Linked DNA regions of Homo sapiens. The protein of the gene in region 3 interacts with the protein of the main gene of each other region in a pairwise test. Each region holds a gene or a part of one and is shown on either strand. Other genes may lie near its edges.

The links.
Region 1: the proteins of EXOC3L2 (region 3) and TNFSF18 interact in a two-hybrid assay, tested with the Homo sapiens proteins (one large-scale study listed by BioGRID and IntAct).
Region 2: the proteins of EXOC3L2 (region 3) and GAGE12G interact in a two-hybrid assay, tested with the Homo sapiens proteins (one large-scale study listed by BioGRID).
Region 4: the proteins of EXOC3L2 (region 3) and GPR148 interact in a two-hybrid assay, tested with the Homo sapiens proteins (one large-scale study listed by BioGRID and IntAct).

The regions. Positions count from the first base shown.
Region 1 is NC_000001.11:173,044,405-173,047,974, reverse strand, and holds part of TNFSF18 (tumor necrosis factor ligand superfamily member 18), read left to right. Parts: intron 1-3,570. UniProt on the Homo sapiens protein: Cytokine that binds to TNFRSF18/AITR/GITR. Regulates T-cell responses. Can function as costimulator and lower the threshold for T-cell activation and T-cell proliferation. Important for interactions between activated T-lymphocytes and endothelial cells.
Region 2 is NC_000023.11:49,568,941-49,573,245, reverse strand, and holds the start of GAGE12G (G antigen 12G), read right to left. Parts: upstream 2,847-4,305; 5' UTR 2,739-2,846; intron 1,700-2,738; 5' UTR 1,692-1,699; coding exon 1,608-1,691; intron 1,143-1,607; coding exon 1,022-1,142; intron 1-1,021.
Region 3 is NC_000019.10:45,228,401-45,231,970, reverse strand, and holds part of EXOC3L2 (exocyst complex component 3-like protein 2), read left to right. Parts: intron 1-96; coding exon 97-208; intron 209-3,570.
Region 4 is NC_000002.12:130,727,817-130,730,839, forward strand, and holds GPR148 (probable G-protein coupled receptor 148), read left to right. Parts: upstream 1-1,253; 5' UTR 1,254-1,335; coding exon 1,336-2,379; 3' UTR 2,380-2,520; downstream 2,521-3,023. UniProt on the Homo sapiens protein: Orphan receptor.

The DNA.
Region 1 (3,570 bases), on a different chromosome or scaffold from region 3:
CATTACTATTAATGAGATAATAATGGGCAAAAATTTAACAAGACCATTTAACAATATGGATAGTCTTTGCCTACCTATATCACTCTCTCAATCAAACACTATATCTCAGAGCCAAATTTATGATTTTGCAATTAGATGGATTTTTAGTGGTGGCAATAATTAGAGAGTATCACAGTGATGGTCTCTGTAGCGCTAAATAGACATAAAGCAGCCTGCAGTATATTATACGGAATTTCTGACTCTGGAAATTAGTTTGGACTTAGGTTGTCTATAGCTTAGGTTTCTCTGAGCACATCTCATACATGCTAGTAGATGGTGCAGATACTATCTGTGGCACGTATTTTGGCACTCATTCATATTTAGATTGTTACCAAATTGCTTTGGGTGTGTAATCATGTCTTTCTAGAAAGATTATAAACTTCTTGAGAAGCAAGGACCAAAAATTACATTTGTTTCTCATGCTTACAATGCTGTACAATGTTGGAAATATGGATGCTTAAATTGTAGTTCAATTCTTCATTACAATCACCATCATCACCCAAACAGCTAATATTTATTGAACAGGTCCAGGCAGGATATCTAGGCAAAGCCCTTATTAAAAACGACCTCATTTAACCCCAACAACTTCAACAAGCTAGGTGCTATTATTTCTCCCATTTTATAGATGAGGAAATTGGGGTTAAGGGAGTCTTTGTCACGTCCCTATCATGGGTTGAACTAAATTGAATTTCAACATCTCCTCCAGGAAACACCAAAATGAGGATGAAATAATTGCAAGAGGCCAGGCACAGTGGCTCACGCCTATAATCCCAGCACTTTGGGAGGCTGAGGCGGGTAGATTGCTTGAGGTCAAGAGTTTGAGACCAGCCTGGGCAACATGGCAAAACCCTGTCTCTACAAAAAAATACAAAAAAAATAGCTGGGCTTGGTGGCATGCACCTGTAGTCCCAGCTACTCAGGGGGCTGACGTGGGAGAATTGGTTGAGTCCAGGAGGATGAGGCTGTAGTGAACTGAGATAACACCACTGCACTCCAGCCTGGGCAACGGAATGAGACCCTGTCTCAAAAAACAACAACAACAACAACAACAACAAAAAAAAACAAGTGTAGGGAATCAAAAAATTTATTTCCTAGAATAGTGGCTTTCAGACTTTTTAATTGCACCTCCCTTTCAATAACATATTATCAGTATAATTCCCAACATTTGTATGCTAATTATTATACTATATACAAGTACTAATAATATGTACACTAAAGAGATACACAAAATATATATTTATAAGGGTGAGCCAAATAATATATTCAATGTAACTCTCACAATGCAAAACCATTTTGCTTTCACCAAAATGTTATATTTTCTATAATCATTAATATGTCATAAACATTACTAAAATAAGTAAAATATTTTAATAACGTGGTGAATGCATTTATTTTATTTTTTAATCTGAGCTTAACACTATGTGATACAGCAATTTGAAGTTTGATATGTTAATTTACCTTGTTTCATGATTTTGACCATCATGACTGAAAAATTACCCGACAAACAAATATAGATTAAAATGGAAGAACACATCTTTGGATATTCTTATCATGTCATACCACTTAATTTTCAATCCATCATTCAATGATGGATGCCTCTCTTTCCTTCCTTCCACAACTAAATTCCAAGATCTATAGCTTTAACACCTCCCTCGCATAAACTCACTCACTTGCTTCTCTCTATCTTCATTATACTCTAATGACAAAAGCTCGACTATGGAAAACCTCCAATGCTGATTAAATCCAACTGCTCTGTCTCTTTCACTGTTGAATATATCTGAAGAAAAACATAAAATTTTTTGAAAGGTCTTACTTTAAATTCACAGCCACTGCCTTCAAGTGGATTTCATTGTTGCTCTGGAAACAGCCCATGTTTCCCCAGTCCATTCACTCTCCTCTACTGGATGATTTCATACCTTTAGCTTCTCTTCAAACATCTAATAACTCTTCCCCATTCTCACTCTCCACTGATAACGTTGCCTCCATATTTTAAGAGAAAATAGAAGTACGGAGGAAAGAAGTTCCAATATCAACAACTCATTGGCATTTGTGTCCAGGTATACTGTTATTCTGTCTTGTCACTATGGATAAATTGTCCATGCATCTATCCAAGCCATCTATGAACTAAATCTTATCCTCTCTTGCCTACTCAGGGACATTGCTGCAACAGTTCTCTCCTCGCTCTTACATATTATGCCTCATCCATTTTACAGAAACATTTCCATCAAATGGAAATAGAAAAACGTGTTGTCATTTCTCTCACATTAAAACGTAACAACAACAACAACAACAACAACAACAAAAAACCTCTTTGATCTCTCATCCTCATCCAAACTCCACTCATTTTTTTCTGCTCTCCCTACAGCAAAATTCCTCCAACTTCTCTTGTCCCATTTACCCTTAAATTTATTTTAACTAAGCTTCTGCCCTCTTCACATATCACAGAAACTAATTTTGTCAAGAACTCCAGTGACTACCATGTTGCTCAATCTATCAGTCAATTCACTGTACTCTTCTTACTTGATCTATCAACAGCATTTGACACCAGCTGATCACTCGTCCTTCATGAAATACTTTCTTTTCTTGGCTTCCAAACATCAGACTCTCCTAGTTTCCTTTCAGACTCAGCTTTTCCTTTCTATTGTCCCTTGCTTGTTCTTTCTCATTCTCCGACCTCTAAACATCACAACGCCCCAGTGTTCCTCTCCATCTACACCCACTAACATGATGGCCTCATACAATCTCACAGCTTAAAACATCAACTATGAGCTTAAGACTCTTAAATGTATATCACCAGAGCTCCTTAAATTTCAGCCTGCTTGACACACTTACTTGGATTTATAATAAGCATCACAAACTAATATGTCCACAACCAAACTCATCATTGTTCCCCTCCCCATTTATTCCTCTTACATCTTATCCATTTTAGTGAATAACAACTTTATCTTTCCAATTATGCAGGCCTAAAATACTGGAGTCATCTTTGTTTCTTCTCATTCCCTACCCCATATCCATGTCAGGAACTTCTGTTGGCTCTATTTTCCAACCAAGTATCACCATCTACAGAGCTAGCACCTTGGTCAGAGACACCATGCTCTCTTGCCTAGATGAATGACTGTAATGATCTCTTAGCTAGTCTCACTACATTTGCCCTTGCCTCTGTTTAATTTGTTCCTAGCATAGCAGCCAGAGAAATCCTACAAAAGGAAAGTGTGCAACACGTTTAAGTTCAAAAAGTCTTTTAAGCACTTTGCCATTAGGAAACCAATAACCTTTGGGTGATACAAAAAATGTTTGTGGTTATGCCTGAATTTACTACAACGTATTTTTGAGCATTTAGCATTAACTACTTGTGTTTGTAAAATTAACCACACACTGATGGCATCTTGTAGCATGTGAACTGCCGTACATTGCAGTAGTCTGAAACTTGGAACTGTTTTTCAGGGTATCTCAGATACTGTATATGACATGTAGTTATCTGAATATTATACATGGGTGGTTTCATCAATCTGAGTTGTAAATATTTCTAGG
Region 2 (4,305 bases), on a different chromosome or scaffold from region 3:
TGAAGGATTGATTAGCTGGATGGATTTGAGGACTATGGAAAATCTTACAGTCACGACACCCATTACCTATTGGGGTAAAGAGAAACTTCACTTTGTTCAAATAAAGTTATATTTAGGTCCGAAGGTCCTAAAGGTAATATTCCATAAATGAACCCCGTGAAGAACAAAGCACCAAATATAACATTGTTTGTGAATCACAGAAAATATACTGTCCCCCGCACTGAGAATAAGGGAGTGGGCGGACAGCAATTAATGGGCATTGTTGTCAGTCAGATTCTAGGAACTTTTAACAGTGCATCCCTGGAATAATCCATGACCTCCGTTACATAAATGCTTCCTTTCAAAACATTTTATCTCGGAGAAATTATTTCCATCTCACGTTAATCTCAGGATAATTCCGTTTTTGCTTTTCTAACCATAAAAGGATTTAATCACCTCCTAAAGGCCGCTGAGAAAAATCACTAAACCAGCTACCTGTATGGCAGTATCCTCATTTATCCAGCTTTTATCAAACGTACCATATAAAAATATCAATCAAAGGAAACGGGGGCCAACATTCAGCGACTCGGTTTTTGGAGCTGCTCCTGCTCCTCTGAACTGGGTCTATTCTTGGGTCAGTACTAAGCTACCTTACAGTAAAGCCTTTTGAGTTTTAAGCATTTTCAGCAAAATCACTTCCTTCTTTCCAGCAACATACATGATAGGAAGACACAAACCTTAGAACACAGTACAAATGTTGTATTCACCAGTCAAGGGTTCTTGGATAACACACAATCCTGGCACCTCCATTCTCTCATTCATAAAGTCGAGAACTTTTATCATAGTGAGGGATTTGCCTAAGCTAAGCTGCAAACTACATAGCCTCCTCGCTTTTCCAGTCAATTTCAGGCATTCTTTCCATTGTTTTCTTTCCTCCTCTTCCTCCTATGTGACAATGCCTAACACACACACACGTGCACACACACACACGAACACACACACACGCACACACCAGCAGACGTTCTTCTTCCCTTTCCCTCACCTTGACCTGCAGATGCTCCCTCATCCTCTCCCTCCTGAGCAGCTGCAGGATCCTGACGTTGAGTTGCTGGTTCCCCTTCTTCAGGTGTTGCTGGTTCCACTTCATCACTGAACTGCTCGGGCTGGGGAATACGTGTGGGTGTGCAAATAGAAAATAAGTTTCGTTATTGATACAAAATTTTACATATATACACAGAATACATAGCTATTTCTGGTCCTAACTAAGCCTAAAGACATTTCTCCAACTCTATGCTCTATGCCCAATAAGGTTACTCCACCCACAGGGAGGTTACTGTGAGAAAAGTGACGCACGAGGACTTTGGGGGCTATTATACTCTGTGTTGGAATACATGTGTACAATCTGTCATTAACAAACAAAGCCGGAGAAAGAAGTCATGGGCAAAAGCTGAAGAACACGAGAGGAAAAAAAAAATCCTCCAGAATCAATGTTTCCTTCATGAGATGCCATCCTCATTTTTTATGAGCAGGAAAGACCTTTATCAGCATTTCCACACTAATGCAACGACGCTATCACAAAAATTAATTTCTACTAATAGAAAACATCGAATTAACGTTTAAGCACTCACCCGCATAGGCCCAATCATTTCAGGAGGCTGTACATAGCGCCTTGGTCTAGGCCAATAATAGGTCGATCTTCCTCGCCAACTCATATTTCACACTGAAAACAGACAACCGTGATTGGGAACGTGCGCTCCAGAGGGCTGCTATATTCGATCACTTCCATGGATAAATGTTAACTTGCCGTTTTACTTTTGAAAATACTCTCAAAATAAGTCCCAGAGTTAAGCATACGTGTGTACGCTGTCTGAGTGCCTACAAAGCCACTTCTGCTGGCCAGGCTGGCAGAGCAATCATCTTAAGGCGTGTGGCAAAAGGCAGAGGACATTTTTTTCTAAATTTCTTTTGGACACGCGGTCTCGCTGTGTTGCTCAGGCTGGAGTGCAGCGGCGTGATCACAGCTCACTGCAGCCTCGACCTCCCGCTCAAGGGATCCTCCCACCTCAGTGTCCCCAGTAACTGGGAATACGTAGGCGAGCGCCACTGCGCCCCGCAGACAGAGGTCATTTCTGATGAGGTTTAGTTTCACAAGTGCACTCCCCACGAAAACCCTAGTGAATCACAATTCTCGTGATTGCTGCTTTGGGCACACTCCCACTTCCTAGAGCCATTCACCCCCACTCACAACAAGTTTGGTTGGACCGCACTGCCTCGCCCACTCCTTCCCACTGTTTTCGGACCTTCCATGGCGGAGGTGAGACCTTGCAGTGCTTCTCACTCGGGCGCTCCGCACTCCACACCGCTGAGGGGGCGCTCGCCAGGCCGCAGCCTTCCCAGGTGCCAGGCCCCTTCTTCACCGCCCGCCTCGCCCCCGCCGGGGGCCCCATTCAGGGAATCTGCCCTGTGTCGTCGGGGATCCCGGCACCTCGGGACTTCCATCCCCCCAACAGCACTCACCCCGTCTTCACCTGAGCCCCTGACCGCCTCCCCTCCACGGCCCACCTTCCTCCCCGTCCAGGCCCCTTCACGACCACGAAGCCGCCGGTGGCCTCGCAGCCTGTGAAGGGAAGGAGGACGACCTCGTGGCCCTTCTCCCTCGGAGGCCACAGACCAGGAAGCGGGACCCGCCTGACCCACCCGAGGCCCTCTCCACCCTCACTCACACTTCAGCCCCCGGGATGACTGGCCTGCACACCTACCAGATGAATCTCAGTAGAGGAAAAAGAGTCCGGACGGCAGGAACCACACAGCACTGCCTCACAGCTCCCTGGCGTTCTTCACGTGGGCGAAGGGGCCGGGCAGAAGACGCCCAGTGAACATGCGCACTGAGGCGGGAGCCCAGGGAGCATGCGCGGCTGTGGGCTGGGGAGGGCTGCCGTTCCCAGCGCCACGCCCCAAACCCTCCATGCCCATCCTCATTGAGGATAAGGGAATCCCACCTCCCTCTGCTGTTTCCTATGCCTCTGGGACTCAAGTAGTGCTCCCCTCAAAACTCACCCCATCTTCAACTGAACCCCACCCCCAACCCAGGGCCCTCTCTTGCCCCGGACCCACCATGGGGACAAGGACCACTGTGACTGGCTGGGAAGACAGGTAAACCACCTGCGAAAACAGAAATAGCAACCTATCCCAAAAGGAAATTGTTCAATGTGAACAAGTCAGAGAAAGAGACTGAAAGAAAAATGAATAGAATCGCTAGGACCCGTAAGAAAATGCTAAAACGATATCTATCATTTGTAGCATCAGAATCGCAGAGGGTGAAGTGACAGTATTAGGGAAACAGGACAGCCAGAGTGACACCACGTGAAAATATACTCCGTCTTGAAAGCAGCAAGATACATAGTCCTACCAGTCACAACCCATGGTCCTAAGATGTTTGGAGTTGAGAAAACAGATGAAAGGTACCTCCAAGGACATGCTCCCACAGCAGCGGAAAGTGCACGGTTCCCAACACCCATTAACAATATATGCTTTCAACAGAATTATGCTTTCATGGACTTACACACTGGTAAGTCAAGGACAGTTTTCTTTAAATCAATAGAATGATAAAAGTCATCATGCTCTTAGCCCACCCGCACAAAGGCACAGATTAACTTTAGTCTTTATATAGATAAGACCCCTATATAAGAAAAACCAGACCAGGCCAAGGCTCACGCCTGTAATCCTAGTATTTTGGGAGGCTGAGCTGGCCAGATCACCTGAGCTCAGGACTTCGAGACCAGCCTAAGCAACATCAGAAAATCTCATCACTACAAAAAACAAACAAAAAACCATCGAAAAATTAGCTGGGCATGGTGGCATGTACCTATACTCACAGCTCCTCAGGAGGCTGAGGTGGGAGGCGCGCTTGAGCCCAGCAGGTCAAGGCTGCAGCGAGCTCTGATAACACCACCGCACTCCAGCCTCGGTGACAGAGTGAGACGCTGTCTCAAGTTTTAATAATCGAACCTAAAAACGTACAAATTTATCAATCGAATTCACTATATTAACACATGAATGGGAAAAAACGCTGTGGTAATCGAAATAGATGCACTGTTTGATGAAAATCAACATATATTCAAATGAATACTCTCAGCAAATTTGGAACAGAATGCAATGACTCACTCTGATAAAGTCCGTCTACAAAAAAAGGAGAGTGAATAGGATGGTGAAATGTTGAAATTTTTCGGTTTCTCATCAGGGATAAGACAAGGATGTCCACTGTCACCATTGTAACGGGTGGGTCTGCGCAATGCCATAAAATCAGAAAAGGAAATAAAACTCTTT
Region 3 (3,570 bases):
GGGTCACAGAAACAGTGGGTAGGAGGGTGTGGGGAAGGTTCCAACTGCCCAGCCCCACTTTTCACAGACCTCCTTTTCTCTCACCCCCATCCCCAGAGAGGTCCTAGGGCTGGTGGACATGGCCGCCCTGGAGAATGGGGAGCTGGGGCCCCTTCTCTCCCCTGGCACCCTGCGGGGTTTGGAGGATGAATGCGTCACAGATGTTAAGGTACCTGGAACTTTGCATTTTGGAAGCAGGAGGTGCTGTGGAGGGAGGGGGTCACAGTGGGCTTGGGAAGCCTGTCCCCTCCACCTTTCACTCTTTCCAACTCCCTTTTCCCTTTACGAACTTCTGAGTTCTATCCATGTGCCATAGACACAAAGGCCGCTGTACAGAGACACTTGGTAAAGGTTCAGTATATCTGGACACTTCAAACCTTAGAGTACAAGAAAGTTAGTCACAGAACTACAGCTCACAGGCCCAAAGACTCACAGAAGTATAGCATCAAAGATTTTTTTTTTTTTTTTTTTTTTGAGGCAGGGTCTCGCTCTGTTGCCAGGCTGGAGCATTGACCTCCTGGACTCAAGCGATCCTCCTGCCTCAGCCTCTCCAGTAGCTGGCACCATAGGCACGTGCCATCAGGCCTGGCTGACAAAGATCTTCACATATAAGCAGGGCTGGTAATAAACATGGTTAATTACTGAACCTGCACAGACACCGCTGAGCAGAATGGCCCAGCCATGCACGCCGTCCCCGGCTACAGTGATGTTTGCTGTCTCAATTCCAGTCCTACTTCCAGCCACAGAAATCAGTCAATGCTACTTAAGAGCCTAGAACCATAGAAAAGAGATCTGGATCCTTAAACTCATCAAATTGAGGATTATACTTTTTTATTTTTTTAATTACAGATGTCTCCCTCTTTTGCCCAGGCTGGAGTGCAGTGGCATGATTACAGCTCACTACAGCCTCGAACTCCTGGGTTCAAGGGATCTTCCCACCTCAGCCTCCTGAGTAGCTGGGATTACAGGCACACACCACCATGCCTGGATAATTTAAAAAAAAAAAATTTGCAGAGACAGGGTCTTGCCATTTTGCCCAGGCTAGTCTCAAAATCCTGGCCTCAAGTGATCCTCCAGCCTCAGCCTTCCAAAGCTCTAGGAGTATAAGCATGAGTCACCCCAGCCGAGACAACACATTTGATCAGAGAATCAGAGATGTGAGAACCTTTGCAGCCCAGCCTTTGGAGTTCTTGAAACACAGAATCTGAGAATCTTAAACTAACTGTTTGGCAGAACCTGAGAGCAGAGTCTTGGGACCAAAAGACAATAAAACATAGACCCTTGGCCGGGCGCGGTGGCTCACACCTGTAATCCCAGCACTTTGGGAGGCTGAGGTGGGAGGATTTCTTGAGGCCAGGAGTTCAAGACCAGCCTGGACAACATAGCAAGACTGTCTCTGTTTTAAAACTTTTGTGGCCGGGCACAGTGGCTCACGCCTGTAATCCCAGCACTTTGGGAGGCCGAGGCGGGTGGATCACGAGGTCAGGAGATTGAGACCATCCTGGCTAACACAGTGAAACCCCGTCTCTAGTAAAAATACAAAAAATTAGCTGGGCATGGTGGCGGGTGCCTATAGTCCCAGCTACTCTGGAGGCTGAGGCAGGAGAATGGCGTGAACCCGGGAGACGGAGCTTGCAGTGAGCCGAGATCGCACCACTGCACTCCAGCCTGGGCGACAGAGCGAGACTCCATCTCAAAAACAAAACAAAACAAAACAAAAATGTTTTGTAAAACATTTTAAAAGTTAGCTGGGTGTGGTGGCACGTGCCTGTAGTCTCAGCTACTCAAGAATCTGAGGCGGGAGGATTGAGTCCAGGAGTGTGAGGCTGCAGTGAGCCATGATGGTACCACTGCACACCAGCCTGGGGGACAGAGCAAGACGTGGCCTCTAAAGAAAAACAATATTTAATATAAATAATACTTCATACATATCATAATATGTAATAATAGGATTTATATTTAATATAAATATTAAGTATACATTATTTGTGTATACATATTAACATATAAATGTGTATATTATAAATAATATACAATAATATATTATATTATAGCTTTATTTATAATGTACACATATATATATTTTGAGACGGAGTTTCACTCTTGTTGCCTAGGCTGGAGTGCAGTGGCACAAACTCGGCTCACCGCAACCTCCTCCTCCCGGGTTCAAGTGATTGTCCTGCCTCAGCCTCCCAAGTAGCTGGGATTACAGGCATGCGCCACCATGCCCGGCTAATTTTGTATTTTTAGTAGAAAAGGGGTTTCTACATGTTGTTCAGGCTGGTCTTGAACTCCCAACCTCAGGTGATCTGCCCATCTTGGCCTCCCAAAGTGCTGGGATTACAGGCATAAGCCACCGCACCTGGTCACATGTATCTATATTATTTATAATATATTATTTATAATATGTATTATTGATTTATATTTAATATTTATATGTTAATATAGATTACATATTTCATGTGCTATAGTATATAATACATACTAATTATTAATATATAAATAACGTATTATGAATTATTAATATACACATTATATAGCTTATACTAATATTTAATATATAAATATATTACATATATAACATATATTTAATACATAAATATATGTATATATTTAATACATAAATATATGTATATATTTAATACATAAATATATGTATATATTTAATACATAAATATATGTATATATTTAATACATAAATATATGTATATATTTAATACATAAATATATGTATATATTTAATTATACACACACGTGCACACACACACAATTAAGCCCTTGCTTATTAGATGGAGGAAGCTTAAAACCATGGACTAATTTTATTTTATCTATTTATTTATTATTTTTTAATTTATTTTTTTGAGATGGAGTCTCACTCTGTTGCCCAGGCTGGAGTGCAGTGGCACAATCTCGGCTCACTGCAAGCTCCGTCTCCCGGGTTCACGCCATTCTCCTGCCTCAGCCTCCTGAGTAGCTGGGACTACAGGCGCCCACCACCACGCCCGGCTAATTTTTTGTATTTTTAGTGGAGACGGGGTTTCACCGTGTTAGCCAGGATGGTCTCCATCTCCTGACCTCGTGATCCACCCGCCTCGACCTCCCAAAGTGCTGGGATTACAGGCGTGAGCCACCGCGCCCAGCCTATTTTATTTTTATTTTTGAGTTGGAGTCTCACCCTGTTGCCCAGGCGGGAGTGCAATGGCATGATCTCCACTCACTGCAACCTCTGTCTCCCAGGTTGAAGCAATTCTCCTGCCTCTGCCTCCTGAGTAGCTGGGATTACAGACACGCACCACCACGCCCAGCTAATTTTTGTATTTTTAGTAGAGACGGGGTTTCTCCATGTTGGCCAGGCTGGTCTTGAACTGTTGACCTTAGGTGATCCGCCAACCTCAGCCTCCCAAAGAGATTACATGTGTGAGCCATCGCGCTTGGCCAAACCAGACTTTTAATATGAAGTTCCAAACCACAGAGTTAGGAGTGGGAAGGGCTGCAGAAGTTTTCTGGCTCAGCCTCCCTCCCCAGCATCAC
Region 4 (3,023 bases), on a different chromosome or scaffold from region 3:
GGCGGACGTGGTCAGGGGCGGTTCTGGGCGTGGTCCCTGGGCTGCGGTGGACGTGGTCTCGGGCTGTGACGAGCATGGTCCCTGGGCAGCAGTGGACGTGGTCTCACACCCAGAGTCTGAAATTTCTGCCTCTTCCTGGCCCTAAAAATATCCTGCCTGTTCCCACGCGGCTCCTGCCTTCTGGAGCAGTCTGCCAGGCCGGCGGTGGGTGTTGGGCAGGGGTCTCAGGCTGCCAGCAGCCAAGTGCAGCCCGTTCTGCAGTGATGACAGGGATCTGTGGGCAGAGGGGACCGAGCCTCGGAGGATGCTGTAGGTGGGAGAGCTAACATTGACTCAGCATTTACTTCAGGCTATGCACTGTGCTGAGTCCCTTACCTCTGGGCTTCCGCAACGTTTCCCTGAGGTCAGTGTGGTTGGCATTCGTGTTTCACAGATAAGGAAACTGGAACAAAGCTTTTCAAGGCCACGCAGCCAACACCTCGAGAGAGCGGGAGAGCTTGTTCACTTGAACTGGATCCCCAAACACCAACAGCCACCCTGGCCACTGGCTCTGACTGAGCTCACCCCACCCCCGACAAGCCAGGTGCCTGGGGAACCTGCCTTCCATTCCTCCCCACTAGCTCCTATGAGGTCTCTGCCTGCCAGGCCTCCTCCTCCCCAGAGGAAGGGACGTTTCTACCACACAGCGACCCCACAAGTCAGCTGAGATTTTGGGGGCACCGAATACTCACATGGAGCCCTGAGTGGAAGGGGTGTAGGAGTCACACTCACACGCATGCACAGGGTCACCCTGAGCTGGAGACCATACCCAAGGCTCTGTGAGGAAATGTGAGTGCGCCCAGGCCCCTCCAGCCTGGTCCAATTTGCTGAGCCTCTAGCTCGACAGAGGTCAGACCAGGTCTACAGCCCAGCGATCCTAGTTCCAGACAGCTGCTCCTTCCTTTCTAGGAGGGCAGCCCGGAATATAATCCAGTGTGGTGAGAATCCATTGCACACTCCCTGTGAGCCAAGCAGACAGGTTTGGGGGCCACTGAGATAGGGGACACTTCTGGAGGGGTCAGTGACTGCAAAATGGTGGCAGTGGGATGATCTGTTATGTCTACCCACGCACATGCAGCTGCACAGTTGCAGAGATGTGAATGCAGGAAGCCAGGTGTGAGTCTGAATTCACATTGGTTTTTTTATCTTTATTAAGCAGTCATTCCTAAGGCCTGCCCGAGCCTGGCATCTCTACAGAGGAGTGGTGCCATCAGGACCCCTGTGGGGCAGATCAACACTCAAGGCAGGTGCAGAATCAACAACCTGTGACAAAGCCAGCCATCCCTGCCAGGAAGCATGGGGGATGAGCTGGCACCTTGCCCTGTGGGCACTACAGCTTGGCCGGCCCTGATCCAGCTCATCAGCAAGACACCCTGCATGCCCCAAGCAGCCAGCAACACTTCCTTGGGCCTGGGGGACCTCAGGGTGCCCAGCTCCATGCTGTACTGGCTTTTCCTTCCCTCAAGCCTGCTGGCTGCAGCCACACTGGCTGTCAGCCCCCTGCTGCTGGTGACCATCCTGCGGAACCAACGGCTGCGACAGGAGCCCCACTACCTGCTCCCGGCTAACATCCTGCTCTCAGACCTGGCCTACATTCTCCTCCACATGCTCATCTCCTCCAGCAGCCTGGGTGGCTGGGAGCTGGGCCGCATGGCCTGTGGCATTCTCACTGATGCTGTCTTCGCCGCCTGCACCAGCACCATCCTGTCCTTCACCGCCATTGTGCTGCACACCTACCTGGCAGTCATCCATCCACTGCGCTACCTCTCCTTCATGTCCCATGGGGCTGCCTGGAAGGCAGTGGCCCTCATCTGGCTGGTGGCCTGCTGCTTCCCCACATTCCTTATTTGGCTCAGCAAGTGGCAGGATGCCCAGCTGGAGGAGCAAGGAGCTTCATACATCCTACCACCAAGCATGGGCACCCAGCCGGGATGTGGCCTCCTGGTCATTGTTACCTACACCTCCATTCTGTGCGTTCTGTTCCTCTGCACAGCTCTCATTGCCAACTGTTTCTGGAGGATCTATGCAGAGGCCAAGACTTCAGGCATCTGGGGGCAGGGCTATTCCCGGGCCAGGGGCACCCTGCTGATCCACTCAGTGCTGATCACATTGTACGTGAGCACAGGGGTGGTGTTCTCCCTGGACATGGTGCTGACCAGGTACCACCACATTGACTCTGGGACTCACACATGGCTCCTGGCAGCTAACAGTGAGGTACTCATGATGCTTCCCCGTGCCATGCTCACATACCTGTACCTGCTCCGCTACCGGCAGCTGTTGGGCATGGTCCGGGGCCACCTCCCATCCAGGAGGCACCAGGCCATCTTTACCATTTCCTAGAGTTCTTGAGTCCACAGTCTGGCAAGCTGAGGTTAAAAATCATATGTTGAATGCAGCAGTGTCCACTTATGACTAACTTCTTAGAACAGCACAATATAATAGTGGAATTGGGCCTTTCAGAAGACCTCAACTGATGATTTTCACCATTTTGACAGTTTTTAAGTAGAGAAAGCTCTCTTATGACACTGAAATCCTACTTGGAAACGGAAGCAAGTAAAGGCAATCAAGCAGGGCTCTGGTCTAAGTCAAGCCTTGATCTGCGTCCCTCCAATGGCTTGCTGCACACCCTCCCTGGCCACTGTGGATGCATCCTTGCTGACCAACACACAGAAGCCAAAATGTTGCTGACAGTGAGAACCACAGAGGTAAGCAAGCAGAGCTGCTGAGTCCTGGGACCATGAGCTCTATCTGAGCAGCCGCTCAGGATGTGGGAGGGAGGAAAGGAAGCCAACGATCCACAGCAGTGGAGAGTGTCATGGAGATACCACTATAAAGCTGGAGTGTGCAAGGGTTACACTCTCACAATAAAGGTAAATGATAACCTAACCTTACAGAAGGGGTCAGCAAGGGAGTTTGCCTGCCTTGACTTTCGTGCTGTGTAGAAGAAGAAAATTCCTCGAGAATTCTTAAGTAGAAGCCACTCT